Linked DNA regions of Homo sapiens: region 2 is linked to region 1. A link means that fine-mapping ties the variant in region 1 to the expression of a gene that starts in the linked region. Tissue or cell type: whole blood. Region 1 holds a variant in brackets; the other region holds the start of a gene. All regions are shown on one strand. Distances are between the middles of the regions.

What was found. PIP is the estimated chance that this variant, and not a neighbour inherited with it, causes the effect.
Region 2: it holds the start of TMCC3, and the variant in region 1 is fine-mapped to the expression of TMCC3 in whole blood (INTERVAL, PIP 0.92).

Annotation. Positions count from the first base shown.
Region 1 is chr12:94,810,049-94,812,734 of GRCh38, reverse strand. No RefSeq gene overlaps it. Among named protein-coding and RNA genes, the nearest start is that of MIR492, 23 kb to the left of the region's middle. The variant A/G (reference allele first, on the strand shown) is at 1,541.
Region 2 is chr12:94,649,080-94,651,765 of GRCh38, reverse strand. It overlaps TMCC3 (transmembrane and coiled-coil domain family 3), which reads left to right and starts at 1,209. Exons shown (of 4, transcript NM_020698.4): 1 at 1,209-1,413. The coding sequence starts at 1,336. It overlaps LOC105369914 (a long non-coding RNA gene), which reads right to left. Exons shown (of 2, transcript XR_945225.4): 1 at 2,163-2,686; 2 at 764-861. RefSeq lists silencers at 1,086-1,255, 1,276-1,745, 1,836-1,965 and an enhancer at 1,042-1,757.

The DNA of each region.
Region 1 (2,686 bases):
GTGCTGTTAATTTGTGACTTTTCCAAACTCTTTTTGCAAATACGTGTTTCTTGTTTTGTGTGGTCACTGAAGTTTCTGTTCTGTTATCTCTGTGGTCAGTCAGTGACCTGAAAAATATTTCTTTAAATTACTGGTTCCAAAAAGGGAAAAGTGGGTAGGAGTTGTTACTTAAAATTTTCATATGGATGCTGCCAGGGGAAGTTGCTGCCACCAAGAGGGCCAAAACCAAAGTGGGTGTCTGCGTCAACCCCTCAGACACTGCTAGACCAACAAAAATGTACAACATCAATTTTTGGAAGAGAAAGTCCCCACTACCTACTCTGGTATGAGTCAGCCATTCCTAGAACATGGGCTGCTATCTTCAAAGCTGTGATGGGAATGGTAGCTGGTTCACTTATGTTGCTGTCTTAGGAAAGATCAGCAGTCCCTCCCTTCATCAAGCCCTCCCCTGGTTGTTGTAAGTGTCTAGTTAGGTTCCACCGTTCCTAAATAGTTGATTCTAGTCACTCCTTCCAGGTCAATGGTTGTTTCAGTAGAGAGATAGCTCCTGGAGCTCCTTGCTCTGTTAGTTTGCATGACATCACTCCTGAAAGCCTGATTTTTATTTTTTGTTTATTTTGTCTCTAGCTTTACTGAAGTGTAATTGACAAATATGTATATTAAAGGTATACAACATGATGTTTTGAGATATGCACACACACACACATTGTAAAACAGTTACCATAATCTAGCTAATTAACATATTCATCACCTCACACAGTTCCATTTTTTCATATGTGTGTGGTGAGAATGCTTAAGATCTATCTACTGTCTTAGCAAATTTCAAGTGTAAATTGTTATACACTACCATCACTATGTTGTTATTAGGTCCCCAGGACTTATTCATCTTATAACTGAAAGTTTATATCCTTGACCAGTGACCAGCCCCTGGCAACCACCATTCTATTTTCTGTTTCTGAGTTCAGCTTTCTTAGATTCTACATCTATGTGAGATCATGCAGTATTTGTCTGTTTGTGTCTGGCTTATTTCACTTAGCACAGTGTCCTCCAGGTTCATCCATGTTGTCACATATGGCAGGATTTCATCTTCTTTTTTTAAATCTGAATAATATTCCACAGTGTATATATAGCACATTTTCTCTATCCATAAATCTGTTGCTAGACACTTAGATTGTTTCCATATCTTAACTATTGTCAATGATGCTGCACTGAACGTGAAATCCAGATACTTTTTTGAGAACATGATTTTATTTTCTTTGGAGATATACCCAGAAGGAGGATTTCTGGATGATATGGTAATTCTATTTTTATTTTTTTTCAGGAAACTCCATACTGTTTTCCATAATGGTTGTACCAATTTATATTCTCATTATCAATGCATAAGGATTGTTAATTTCCTCCTTGCCATACACTTGTTAACTTTTGACTTTTTGATCATAGTCATCCTAACAGGTGTGAGATGATATCTTATTGTTTTGATTTGCATTTCCTGATGATTAGCGATGTTGAGCACCTTTTTGTATACTTTTTGGTCATTTGT[A/G]TGTCATCTTTGGAAAAATATCAGTCTTTTGCCCATTTTTTTTCTTAGAGACAAGGTCTTGCTCTGTCGCCCAGGCTGGAGGGCAGTGACACAATCATAACTCACTGCAGTCTTGACTTCTGAGGCTCAAGCAATCTTCTTGCCACCCGAGCAGCTCGGACTATAGGTGCACAGCATCATTCCCGGCTAATTTTAAAAATGTTTTTTCTAGAGACAAGGTCTTACTGTGTTGCCCAGGCTGGTCACAAACTCCTGATCTCAAGGGATCCTACTGTCTCAGCCTCTCAAAGTGCTAGGATTACAGGCATGAGCCCCTGCGCCTAGCCCCTTTGCCCATTTTTAAGTTGGGATATTATTACTATTATTTTTTGCTGTTGAGGTATATGAGTTCGTTATATATTTTAGATATTAATACCTCATATATATATGGTTTTCAAATATTTTATCCCATTCCTTTGGTTGCCTTTTCGTTTTGCTGTGTTTTTGCTGTGCAGAATCTTTTCAGTTTGGGACAGTCTCCCTTGTTTGTTTTTACTTTTGTTTCCTGTGCTTTTGGTATCGTATCAAAGAAAAAAAGAAAATCATTGCCAAGACGAATGTAATGGAGCTGTCCCCCTATGTTTTCTTCTAGAAGTTTTACAGTTTTAAGTCTTAAGTTTAAGTCTTTCATCGATTTTGAATTGATTTTTGTGTATGGCATAAGATAAAGTTTCAATTTCACTTTTTTGGTACATGGATATACAGTTTTTTCGGCACCACTTATTGAAGAGACTATTCTTTCCCCATTGTGTGTTCTTGGCACCTTTGTCCACATGGTCATTATTTGACCGTACATGTGTGGGTTTATTTCTGGGCTCTCTATTCTGCTCCATTGGCCTATGTGTCTGTTTTTATGCCACTACTATACTGTCTTGTTACTATAGCTTTGTAGTATAATTTTTAATCAGTGAGCGTGATGCCACCAGCTTCATTCTTCCTGCTTAAGATCGTGTTAGCTATTTGGGGGTCTTTTATGGCTCCAAACAAATTTTGGGATTGTGTTTTCTGTTTCTGTGAAAAATGCCACTGTAATTTTGATAGGGATTGCATTGAATCTACATATCACTTTGGGCATATGGACATTTTGACAATATTGATTCTTCTGAT
Region 2 (2,686 bases), 160 kb after region 1:
CTTGAGGTTTTCCCAAATGTACCTCTGATTTTAGGGGCTCCAAAGTTTTCTTCAGCCTGCTCTACCGTCCCCTTTGAACCCTATGAGGGAAATCCTTCCCTCCCCCTGGACTGGTCACACTGGGCTCCAGGTCCTCTCTGGAACAGCTGCACTTTAAATATTTCAGCCCAGTCTCCCACTGTACACCCTACAGAGCCAGAACAGGTGTTTTGAATTTTGTTTGGGGTTACTGATATTTAAATTGTTCACCAATGGTCCTTCCTCTTCTAAACTCCAAATTCCTTGTGGGCAGGGACTGATGACTGGGAATGGGGAATACTAAAATGAAAAGATATCCTGACTTCCAAGTAGCTTAAAACATAAAGGTAAGCTGGGCACAGTGGCTCACGCCTGTAATCCCAGCACTTTGGGAGGCTAGGGCAGGTGGATCACGAGGTCGGGAGATCGAGACCATCCTGGCTAACATGGTGAAATCCCGTCTCTACTAAAAATACAAAAAAATTTAGCTGGGTGTGGTGGCAGGCGCCTGTAGTCCCAGCTACTTGGGAGGCTGAGGCAGGAGAATGGCGTGAACCCGGGAGGCGGAGCTTGCAGTGAGCCGAGATTGCGCCACTGCACTCCAGCCTGGGTGACAGAGCGAGACTCAGTCTCAAAAAAAAAAAAAAAAGAAAGAAACATAAAGGTGAGCCAGATATGCAAAATTAAAATACACAACACAGTAGGATCTTAGTTTAAGTGGAAGTATGCTCTATGCTCAGGGCAATCATGGTCGGGGGGAGTTTTTATTTTATTTCATTTTTTTACTTTAAATCTCTGGTCTCTAGTCCAGCGTCTGGTACATGGCAGCTGCCCAGTAAGTGCCTGTTGAATGGAGAATAACATAAAAAGAGGCATTTAAGGCAAGTGTCAACTTCTTGCAGTAACAGTCACCTTTTATATATAAAATAAGTCAACAGATAGTGTAGTGTGGATGTCGCTTATCTTTTGGGGAGAAAGAGGGCTGTGTGGGAGGGGATGGAATCAACTTTCAGCCAGGGAGGGAGGCGAAGACATTGCCTCCCGGGTCGGGGGTGGGTGGGGGGTCCAGGCGGCTGCGGGGCGCGGGAGAGGCGGGGAGAAGGGAAGGGGGAGGAGACTCTCGCCTCCTGCCCCGCCTCCCCCACCCCGCGGCGGCGGCGGCGCAGGGCGGCCGCGCGGGTGTTGGCACCAGAGGCAACAGCTGCAGCAGCCGCGCCGCCCCCTCGCCCGCGGCTCCCAGGGTGATCCCGAGCACAGCCGGTGGCTCGCGGCGCGGCAGCCCCAGAAGACGGGAAAGTTCGCGGCCGGAGCGCGGAGATGCCGGGCAGCGACACGGCGCTCACCGTGGACCGGACCTACTCGTACCCCGGCCGGCACCACCGCTGCAAGAGCCGGGTGAGCGCAGCGGGCTGGGGGGCGGCGGGTGCGCGCGGGCCCGGGGGCGAGGCGGGCTGGGGCGGCGGCTCAGTGCTAACCCACGCGCCCCCGGCGTTTCGCCGCCGCCCTCCGCTGCCGCCGGAGGTCCGTGCCTCCCCGATCCTCCGAGCTAAAAGGGTGGGCGTCGGGGGCGTCGGAGCCCAGGCTGCGGTTCTGGGATCCCAGGTCCGCCTGCCCCTCACGGCGCCCAGGTCCCCGCGCGCTATGCGGGACGCCCGGTTCCCCGACGGCCCGCGCTCTGCTGTCCTCCCCGCCAGGGAGCGCCCGCCGCTCCGCGAGGGAATCCCGCCACCCGGCCACCCGCGGCCCCGCGTCTCCAGGTCTCCGGGGTCTCGCCCTGGGTGTGACGGTGCCCTCCCCGCCGAACGTCCCGGCGGCCGCCCTGTCTCCCTGTCCTCGGGGCGTGTGGCCGGAACCCGAGCGCGGTGCGCAGCCGGAGCGCGGGGAGGCGGCGGACGGGCTCTGCCCAAGTGAAAAGTCAGAATCTTTGCGCTGCCTCTCCGGAGTTTCGAGCCGAGCCGAGCAGGCGCCCTCGCCATTGTTTGCAGTGTAATTTGCTGTTGCTGATTTTGGCTGTGGGCGAAAATAGCTCATTCTGAGCCTGCTGCAGAGACGAGCCCTGTAGGGCTTCAAAATAAAGACGGAGGCCGCAGCCCAAGCGCGGGTCTGTCCTGGGAGAGGAAGCCTTCGCCCTCCCCGGTGAATACCTTTGCCCTCCCGGGCTGTTGAATCGTCGAGGCTGGATGTGAGGCTCTGTAACCCGTTCTCCCCAGGGCTGATTGAAGTGCCATTTAACAAAGCACCTCCTCCACGCTGGCATCTGTTCTGGCAGGAGGCACCTGGAGTTGTTCTTTGCTCCGCCAACTACTTACTCGCTTGTCCGAGAACTGGGGATTTGGGTGTCAGCCTCTGTGTAAAGTTCACGGAGGGAGAGCCGGGCTCAGATTCTGGCCTGCCACTTCCAAGATCGAGAGACCAACTGGATGGAAATAGTAGCAATAGTGACGGGGTTGTGTCGCGGCCCTTTGTGCAGGATTTTGGTCTTCACTCATAATTTGAAGTAGTAATCGATTGCCCCAGAAGTGAAGCAATGAGTCTCTGGTTTATTTGCCCGCTTTCCCTTTTTCCTTTAGCATCTGTTAATCATTTTGGAAGGATGATTTGAGTTTTTACAGATTGAATATATTTGGTGGAATAATACCTCATGCACTCATCTCAATCTTACAATTCT